Linked DNA regions of Homo sapiens: region 2 is linked to region 1. Evidence: fine-mapped expression QTL. A gene starts in region 1. The other region holds a variant in brackets. All regions are shown on one strand. Distances are between the middles of the regions. Region 1 holds the start of CROT (carnitine O-octanoyltransferase). Region 2 overlaps DMTF1 (cyclin D binding myb like transcription factor 1).

Region 1 (5,385 bases):
AAAGAACGTTAATATTGAATTTGAACTTCCTATTCTCTCAAAAACTATTTTTTAAAACTGATAGCAACGCTAAACAAAGTATTCCACTCATAGGTTACAGAATCGAACACTATCAAAAACATGGACACAGAAGAGACTATTTTCAGCTAATACCTGTTTTCCTCTGCTTTAACAGAATCCTGAGTTGTAGCTGTGCATACAGCCCCCAGTTTTATCTTTCCTACCCTCTCTTGGAGCTCAGTGTGGCTTTGTGATGACCTTGTGTGTGTCACTTCCAGGTCATGCTCCCAAAAAGGAATGCATGTGTTCTCCCTGCACTTTCCCTCCTTTTTACTACCTGCTAGGTAGTGACGAACTAAACAGCACCATGGCCTCATTTATGGAAGTCATATATGCAGGATTGCAGAATCTCCCTACTAGTCCTGGACTCCTACCTCTAGATGTATGGAAAAAAAAAAACTTCTATTTTATTCATACCATTGTATTTTGGGCTTTCTATTGTAGGGAGAAGAGCTTAGCCTGTACCACTAATATAAAGAGATAATTTGAAAATGAGAAATAATAATTAACTCAAAGTTCTTTAGCTTCTTTCTATCTATTGACTTTGGCTGCACACCATTTTGACCATCCATAAAAATGGGTTTGTACCTAATGGAAATGTAGATCTGGATCCAAGTACAGACTCTGCCACTTTCTAGCCATGTGCCCCTAGGGCAACCAACTTTAAGTGAATTTCCTTATCTTAGAGTGGTTAATCATACAATTCAATAAAGTCAGAATTTGTTTTCAATGCCTGTGAAAGCACATTATAAAAACAAAATAATCCTGCCTGAAACCACCATATTGTGGTAGGCACAATTACTATGAATGGCCCCCAAGATTCCACCCCTGCTAATCCCCAGAACCTGCGAATATGGTGAGATCATTACTCCTGTGATTGTGATATTCTCTACAGAACTGACCTTAAAATAGGGATATTATCGAATTGGAACTAATCTAATCACTTGAGTCCATAAGAGCAAAGAGCTTTCTCTGGCCAGTGGCAGACAAGTAAGACTGCTTTAATGCTTGAGAAGGATTTGTGGTGTCTTTGAAGATGCAGATGGCCTTAAAGAACTGAAAGAGGCTCAGGCTGACAAACAGTAAGGATATAGAAATGTCAGTGTGAATTCTACCAACAATCTGAAATAGCCTGGAGGTGGATTCTCCCCTAGAGCCTCCAGAAAAGAATCCAAATCTACAGAAACCTTGGTTTCGGTTTTGTGAAATTCTAAGCCAAGTACTCAGCTAAGCCCACCCAAACTTCACATTTACAGAAGCTATGAGATAATACATTTGTGTTGTTTTAATTGTTGCATTTGTGTAATTGGTTAAGGCAGCAATAGAAGACTAGTACACACATACAGAGAAGATAAGCTATTCTGTTTACCTCTGTGCCACTTAATAGACTCTAGAAAACTGGAAGCAAGAGTATTAGTTACATACCCACTATAGTGCTTAACCCACCAACCGGTACACATTAAAAATATAAATTATTGGATTCTTTCTTGAAGAGTTTTCTTGAATTCTCAACCACAAAGATTAAGTTAAATAAGATGGTTCCAATAGCACTAAGAAAATGATTATGCTAGATTTAATTAGAATTGACTTTCTGGGGGCAATTAGATATGAATTCACAGAAAGTGGAAAAGAACCACGAACAATACGTGAAGGAATTGTCACATACCAGTACACCAAGAAGATGAACTGCTTGAGACTGCCAGGAGCCTGCTGCAACAATTGTTTTGAGATCACAGGGAACTGGACTAAGTCGGTGACTGTGGGAAGAAAGAAACAAGCTTAACAAATATTTAAGAGGGAAAAAGAAATGAACAAGCTAGTGAAAGAAGGTGGAATGCAGACAAACTAGGAGTTGGGAGTTCCCAAGACAAACTTTTCGTGAATCACTGCAAACACACGCAAATAGTCCACCTGCTAGAGAGCAGGAGTAAATGATCATACAATTAAGTAGGTTTCAGACAAGTACACCTTCCATTAGACGGGTTCAAAGGGTAGAGGATACGTTTTCAGTGGCTGGGTAACAGGTTCGTCGCAGAGTGGCAAGGGGTAGAAGCAGGAGCAGAGGGCAATGAGAGCTCGGAGGCTCTTCCCACCAACCCAAGAGCAACTCTGCACTCAAGAGGCCATCAAGTGAGAGAAATCTAAGCACTACAACGGAGCAGCCCCGCGGCCCAACCTTGAGGGTACCCCTGAGACCCCAGCAGGCGAGATGCTTGATGACACTACTCCCCCACCAAATCCAGGCACCTTTGCGGTTCTGCACGACTTAACTTTCCCCCGCCCCCGAGTTGAAGGATTAGGGGAGGGAGGGAATGCTGCTTCAACGGACCTGTCCGTCCTCACCGCCCGCGCCTCGCCGCCTCTGCCGCAGCCTCAGCCTGCAGCAGCACCGGCTCGCTCCCCCTTGGGCCTCAAAGGTGCGGGAATTGGACTGAAGGCCGCTAGGGTCCCGCCCCGCATTCGCCGGGGAACAGGATTGGATAGAAAGCCGCGAGGGTCCCGCCCCTCACTTTCCGGGGAACGGGACTGGACGGACAGCTGCAAGGGTCCCGCCCCGTGCCTGACGTCGGGGGCGAGCCGGGCCTGCGCGGTAGTGGGACCCGACCCTGTCTCCAGTGGGCGTCTTGGGCCCCGGCTCTATTCTGGGCTGCGGGCCTGGGAAGGGCTCGCCGGGTGCCAAATGAGCTGTCCTAACTCTGCGGGGCTGCAGCTTCCTGCATGATGCTGGGGAGCTTGGCGCCTGACCCAGGATCTAGAAGGCACTCTGGGCAGGCCGCGCTCCGCCCACGAAGGTACCCAACCCTCTGGGATAGATGCAGGAAGCGATGGTTAAGACCCATTTTCACCCAACTTCTCGCCGCAGGTCTGGCTTACCACACGCTCCTCCCCATTCCCAGTGAGCCGCTTTTTGCAGCACCAGGCGAACACTTACACCAGTGCTTTGTAAAGGAATCTTATTGTCCACCCCGTGTCTTGGCAAAAGAACAGTGATCACACAGATTCCTACTTGGGCTCTTTCCTTTAATCTTCGGAGGCTGAGTTTGCCCAACTCAGGTATGCCGCAGCACACTACATCATCTCGGGTCTCCTTGCTCTTCTGCAGCTCTTCATTGCTACCCAAGTTATTTGAATACCCCAGGGATGCTTACCCCCGGGCCTATCTGATGTCTTTTACTGTTGTGCCAAGAAATGGAATCTTTAACCAGAGTGGAGCTACCCAAGTTCTAGAAGATCATAATGTGATTGACTTAGTTTCACAGATTAATTCATTTTGCTTTTACCTTCTGAAATAAAATATACTGTTTCATTTTTAATTTTAAATACACTGTTTCATTTTTTTGTGGAAGGAAAGACCAAATGTTTACACTGACTCTGAACTAGTTATCAAAGATAAAGATTTAGATTTCAAATTAACATGTCATGACAGGCCCCATTCCTTTGTCTGTCGTTTCTAACTCCTTTAGCAGTAAAGTTTGACCTGAAGGGAAGTGAGGCTATGTGTAACTGAATGTTCCCTTTGTGTAAATATTCATAAGTTTTCTACAGAAATATTGTGTTTGATTACAGTACAGCTTGCTGGAAGTGTTTCATAATATATGGCAGACGTACTATTCTAAGAAAAGTTCTGAATTTTGAAACATATCTAGCCAAAAAGATTTTAAATAAGGGATTAGGAATTTGTAGTTGTAATTTCTGAAGGTGTGATAAAGAACTTTTTCTTTCATATATAAGTGCGATGCTCTGGATGATGTTAAAGTTTGCTTACAAGATAAAGTTTTTAAATTGAGTAACTAAAAACTACTCAGAAACCTTCGTTGTATTTTTTTTCTCCTTTTTAGTGAGTCTTGGCATCTCTTTAAAAGTTTATGCATGTTTAATGCCTGTTGGTGCATAGAATTTAGAACCATTTCGCTTCACTCTTTTTCCTACTCTTGTTGTTTATTTCAATGGAAACAAGATGTTTCTGTAAAGATTCCTGAATTATCGGATAGACAAAAAGGTGTGGGAGTGAAAAAATGAATGGAACACAGATTTGAGTATGTAGAAAAAAATCTTTTAAAATATGTTATACTGATAAGCATATGTACCCCAAATCACCAAAAACAGGTATTTTAAAATATGTTTGGCTTCAAAATGTGTGATATATATTTTAATGAAAGATTCCAAATTATGTTGCATTCAGGTTAAACTTGAACGAGTTTGCATTTCTTAGAGTGGAGCGGGAGATATTGGCTGGTAAGGAAGATGTTTTAGGCACTTGAAGTATTTGTGATAGCAAGAAGTTGTTCCAAGATTAAAAATTGACTATGAGTCAAAGTAACTTTTTGGAGGAAAATTTGTAAGTAGTACAAGTGGTGATAATTTTTTAAGTTGCCATTAAAAAAATCTTTTATTTTTGTTCTTCTGTAGTTCTTACTCAGCATACCACAAATTGCAAAAGACTTTATAGATAAGTCTAGATAAATTTCACCATTAAAAAGTATTAAAATGCTAGACTAAGAAGTTCATGTTTCAATCTGCATAACTGGCTTCCTGCTAAGATTTGTGACTCTAATAAGTAAGGAGATATGGTAAATAGCCCTAATCTATGGGAGACCTGTAACCTCCTTTCATTCTGATGTATAAAATGAACATGTTGAAGAAATAATTTTGTGATGTTTCTTCTTTTTAATGGGGGGGCAGTAGAAATATGGTCATTTTGGGAAGCAGCCAACAGCAAATTAAAGTACACTGGACGCAAAGAGGGCAATGTAGCATTAAAAATGAACTCCACTGCCAACAGCAGATGAACAGTGTTTGATACAAAAGGTCTCTTTTTAGTACTAATCATTGATTTGGGGTTGCTTTTGATGATATTTACAGTACATGAAAAGTTGCCACCAAAATCTGAGGGGAAGAGTTAAGATAACTATGATGTTTTTGCATCTCAGAAAAAAATACCTTCTTACTAAACAAAATATAACATTTAAAAATTTTGTTAACATCTTTGTTGAAATATAATTTACATACCATAAAGTTCGGCCATTTAAAGTCCACAAATCAATGGTTTTACTATATTCACAGGGTTATGCAGTCACCATAAGCTAATTTTAGAACATTTGGTTCAAATATTTAAAAAGATTATTTTCTACATACTCAAATCTCTGTTCCACTCATTTTTTTCAGTCCCACAACTTTTTCTATATCCAAAAATCCAGGCATCTTTACAGGAACATTTTGTTTCCATTGAAATAAATAACAAGACTGGGAAAAGAGTGAAGCAAAGTGGCTCTAAATTCTGTGTTACCAACAGGCATTAAACATGATTCATCAACTGACTGATGA
Region 2 (5,385 bases), 160 kb after region 1:
CAAAATAACACAAAAGCAATAGCTGCAATCAAAAAACAACACAACAGTACAACAAAATTTGAGGTTTAAAAAAATCTGTTCGTTTTCTAGCTTTGTTGTGACAATTTGATTTTCGGTAGGGAGTAGCCATGGTGACAGTCTCTATTACTTCAGGGTCTTAAATAATTTCTTGCTAGTATTTTTGCCCATTTTAGTTAATAAATCTTAATGGTTAAACCAGCTACTTAAAAAAATAAGCTGGGATTATGATATCTTAAAGCTTTTTTGAATTTGTATGAAATGGATGTGTTTGATTTGGTCTACTTTGGAGGTGTGGAGGTAACTACAGACTGGGCCCCCTTCTTGGCAATCTTAGCACAGTAGCCAAGGATTGAAGGGCATGGAGACTGAACAGCCCTCTTATCCTAAACGTGTTCCCCCTAGGCTAGGACTGAGGCACATTGGTGGGACAGTGGAAAAGCTACACTGCCGCTGCCTGTGCCATACCTGTTCTGTGGATATAGAGAGGACTTCAGTCTCCACGCCTTCAATCTGGTACTTTGCATGAGCACTAAACCCACTAAAAAAAAAAAGGAACAAACACAACACAAAAAAAGAGCTCAATATGAAATACTTAAGATCTTAAACAGTAGTGCTCTATGGAAAGGATACTTTTCAGACACTAGGCATCCAGGAAAACCAAAAGAGGAAAGTCTATCAAGACATCCACAGAAATTAAGTTGCTTTTGTCATTACAAGATTCAGGACACAAACCTGAGGATGAGATTGATTTCATCTTCCTTGGTCCATTCAGTACCCCCACTCTGTTTCCAATTCAGGTAGTTGAGCCATTTAGAACGACATTGCTTTTCTGAGCGGGTACCGACTCGTTCAGCCACAGCTGCCCAAGACACACCCTGTGTGACTATGTCACCTGGCTCAGTGCTTGTCAACTCATGAACCACTTCTGCAAGTCTCTTTTCTTCTTCTTCTGTCCACTTCCCTGAAAAAAGGAAATCATCCAGACTACCACTGCTAACTTCTTTTACAAATCTGATTCAGCCCTCTATTTACAAGGACTGATAGGAAGTAAGCAATAGTACTAAGAGTTTGTTTCTGAATGACCCTCTGGTGGAAAACCATATATACCCACTAAGACAGTTTCATTTTACTAGCCCAGTAAGGGTCTCAGTAGAAAAGAAAATAAAGAATCCTAATGGAAAGCACTGACCAATTATGAAAAGAAAAACCACCCAAAACATAACTACAAAGAAGAATGTATTCTCAAGTTACACTAAGTCCTTTATAAACAGTGAAGTGGGAAGAGCTTCGTCAATGGCTGACAGACAAGAAATGGCATGCTTTTTTTCTTACTGTCACCTAAGATTCCCTGCTCTGCAAAAGTAAGTTCAAGAGGCCATTACTTATAGGAATGAATGATGAGGGACAAGGGAAATTACACCAATGGGCTCAACCTATTTTAGTAAAAACTAGGTTTCTACCATCTTGTTTCCTCACTATCCCAACTCCAAGCTACTGTGATGAAATATTAGTAAAGTCTGATACAAGTATTTACTTTTATTCCTGTGTTTTCTCAACCCATAAACCCACTAATAGATAACCCCAAATGTTCCTCTCTGTCTTTTTCTTATGGAGCTAGAGCAGAAAAACAGAAAGGGAAAAAAGCCATTTTTTTTCATCTTCTTTACCTCTGTTTCCATTTTGTTATTACTAGCTGAAAACCTCTAGAAAATTTCAAAAAGACTGTGCTTGCTTTGGGATTCCATTCATCTAGCAAATGTTTATTGAATTTTCATTATATGCCAAGCACAATTATGAATACTGTGGATGGATTCAAGACAAAGTTCTACTCTCCTATTCTAGCATGCTGTGAAAGGATGGGACTACTTTGAGACTGTGCTGTTTCATGGCATGGCCTCATCAGCAGCTGTATGTCACAACATGAGAAGGAAGCAGGCAGATCAATCAATCCCTCAGGTTGGCAATCAGGAAATGCCACTGTGTCCTTCCAAATTTTGTTACCAAAAGGGGTTCTGTACTCACAGCATCTTACATGAAACTCTGAGATCCTATCCTAAATCTAAAGCTTACAGCCCTGCTTCTTTCATTAAGCTGGCCATGTCACAGAATGACAAAGTTGGTAGAAGTTATGTTCTCACTGCCCTGCAGGTAACAGTGATAGTGCAGTAGTTAAGCAGGAAAGAATTCTGATTTCATTTTTAGAGCAGGGGGTTAAGGTCAAAATGTATATGCCCTGGAAGCTAAAGCTAAACTTCAGAAATTTTTTTTTTAATTGCAACAGTGGGCATGGATTGTGGATCCTTCAGAGAACATTATGGCTAAAAGGGCACTATGAGACCACCTACTCTAATCTCTTTACTTTACAGAAGGAAGTGAGGCTCAGAAAGGTTAAATGACAGTTAATAGCAGAGCCTAAATACGTTGTTGGTCGCAAAGATTAGGTTTAACAGTATGATCAGGACATCTGCATGCATTAAGAGGCATTTGTGGTCTTGCCAGGGGACTGAAACACCAATCATAAATTTTTTCTATGGAAAAATATACTTTGAGTTTAAAATAAGCAAAATATTTACAAATCTTTGGAACACAGCTTCTTCCTAATTTGGGACTTACCTGTGACTAAAGTTTTTCATAAACACTCACTGATTAGCTGTTGCTAATGTAAATTCAACAGTTAGATGGGCCTAAATTAAAATTACTTGCTGCATGTATGTCTTCAAAATACTTTCTCAACTGGGGAAGTATTGAAATTGTTACAAAACTGAAACATGTTAGATCTGAATCATCTTGACACTAAGGTGATGTTGTGTCCCTGAAGACAATGTTACCTTATACAAAAACAA[AG/G]TAAAAGATTAGTTTGATATATCTAATAAGCTCAAGGAAAAGGAAGACTAGAAAATAAAGTCTGAACTAAGGTGAATGATCTAAATCGCTCCCCAAGAGCAAAGAAAAGGCAGTATCCTAAGGGGCAGGAGGCTTAAGTGGTGACAAGAAAACGCTACCAGTAGTAGTCACAGTACCTGTGTTGCAAGTATCCTTCATCAGTCGGCACCGATCTTTGACAGAAGATGCACTTCTTCCTAGCGCCGCCCCTATTGTTGCCCAGTCATTGCCATGCTTTATCCGGAGCCTAAAACAAGAGTCTGCCAATCAGCATTTGGTTCAATTGTTTTCTCCCTTTTAATTTCATCATTTATTCTTCATTCTTCTTCTTCCCATTTGACTGGTTTGGAAGTTGTGGGCAGCAATACTTTGAGAGCCAAAGTTTGAAAGTGTGGCCTTTTTTTGGGGTCCACAGTTGTCTGTGGGTGAAAAAAAAACAGGCAGCAATTGCCTTTTTCCTGGGTCAGAGAAGAAATAAGTAACTTGGATATGTGTTCAAAAAAGACCAATTTCCCCTCAGGTTACTGACACAATCTCCCAGGCAAGCCCCAGACTTTCCCTTTTGAGCATATACCCAACAAACTCTTCTTTAGACATCTAAAGTTTCACAGGTCTTTATCATTATAAACAGAATCTACCTTCAAATTTTTTCATGATCCATACAATTCATTAAACCATACTTTAAGGTCTAACTCAATAAAGCAAAATTCTACTTCCTGAGATTCAATAGCCTTTGCAAGGTTGAGTCAGCCCAGATATTCACTGAAACATTTGCCAAGTCACCATTCTAAACCAAGCCATGTAGCACAACCCTGGTTTTCATCCTGGTATATAAATTCCCCAAATTTAGTCTTCAGGCTACCAAAAATGGCCCCTTAATCTTTTCTGGAACCCCTATTAGTGGTCTGAGGAAGCATCTGGTGAATGGCATCAGGAGACCAGATTATACATTATGAGAATGGTTATTTTGTGCAAGTAATGGATTTGATGTGATCTTTTTAAGGCCAATCATGCTTAATAGCACAATTCAATTATACCAGTCTGCCAAAAACCTCTTGAAATTTTCAAAGTAAAACTTTTAAGGACGTAAGACATAAAAAATTAGAATTAATGAAAAAAACTTTAAAACTTACTCCTTGAGCTTCTCAATTTCTTCAGGTGTATATCTAGAAATTCAGAGAAATTTTTAAAAAATCAATTAAAACAATGAATGCTAAAAACCTCAATAAAAATCAGAATTTCATTTAGGGAGCTGAATGTTAAGTCACTTAGCATATAATACTTTTAAAGTAACCCATTTTAAAGTGGATTAATAAAAGTTGAGAATAGGCAGGGTGCGGCTCACGCCTATAATCCCAGCACTTTGGGAGGCCAAGGCAGGCGGATCACTTGAGGCAAGGAGTTCGAGACCAGCCTGGCCAACATGGCAAAACCCCATCTCTACCAAAAACAGAAAAATTAGCTGGTGGCAGGCGCCTGTAATCCCAGCTACTAGAGTGGCTGAGGCAGGAGAATAGCTTGAACTCACGAGGCAGAGGTTGCAGTGAGCCAAGATCATGCCACTGTACTCCAGCCTGCGCAACACAGACTCTGTCTCAAAAAAAAAAAAAAAAAAAAAGTTGAAAATAAATGCTTCTATTTTTATTTTTTTTTAAACAGTAAATATTTTTTAGTTATAATAAAGGTAAGGATTGTATAATTTTCTCTAGAAAAAGAATCAACATTTAAAACATACATTTGCTCCTATGCTGTCTAACAGTTCCTTTATTTCAAACTTAGATTTTGGCACTCTCAAATCATAACTACTCCAAAAAAACTTATGGGTGACATTGTAAACTAGAGCTAAAAAGAAAATCTACAGAAAATTCCCTCAAAGCACTGAACAAATTAAGATTATCTTCATTTCCTTTACCCAGGTATGGACATCTGACATACTCTTGCTCTTTATTACAGTAGGCAAGTACTCAATACAGCCTATGTAATGTTCTTTTTAAAAATGTCCATTTAATAATTATGAAACGCTGCTCACTTTGTAACCATTTGTAATGCATGGAAAGTTTATGAATTGCTAACAAGTCATTTATGCTCCATTTAAAATTTTTTCTCTTTTTCCACTGTCACAAAAACATAATTTAATCCTCTTCAGCTTTCAAATGTACTTTCATTAGCAGGCTGCTGAAGAGCTAGAGAAAGAGCTCCAACATTAGCTCGGCAGTATCTAATAAGCCATACTACTGCCACCTAAAATTTCCAAAGAGAAATTAAAAATATGTCAGTAACAGTATATAATCATTGCATTTGAAGAATCTTAATGATGCCTTCCCATAAATGCTATCTAAAACAGAAATCCATACATTGTTTTCAGAAATGTAGTTCTTTTCCATTCTGGATTTAAAAAAAGGCCACTGACCTAGGAATGCTATATTCTAAAAATAAATAGGAAAAATGTTACCAATAAATTTCAAGTTATTTTCACACTTC

What was found. PIP is the estimated chance that this variant, and not a neighbour inherited with it, causes the effect.
Region 2: its variant is the best candidate, but not a certain one, in a credible set for the expression of CROT in whole blood (TOPMed, PIP 0.77).

The regions. Positions count from the first base shown.
Region 1 is chr7:87,342,772-87,348,156 of GRCh38, reverse strand. CROT (carnitine O-octanoyltransferase) reads right to left here and starts at 2,493. Exons shown (of 18, transcript NM_021151.4): 1 at 2,390-2,493; 2 at 1,727-1,817. It overlaps TP53TG1 (TP53 target 1), which reads left to right and starts at 2,665. Exons shown (of 3, transcript NR_015381.1): 1 at 2,665-3,114. RefSeq lists a silencer at 2,468-2,677.
Region 2 is chr7:87,179,994-87,185,378 of GRCh38, reverse strand. DMTF1 (cyclin D binding myb like transcription factor 1) reads right to left here. Exons shown (of 18, transcript NM_001142327.2): 9 at 4,038-4,070; 10 at 3,042-3,151; 11 at 754-982. Among named protein-coding and RNA genes, the nearest start is that of DMTF1-AS1, 30 kb to the right of the region's middle. The variant AG/G (reference allele first, on the strand shown) is at 2,865.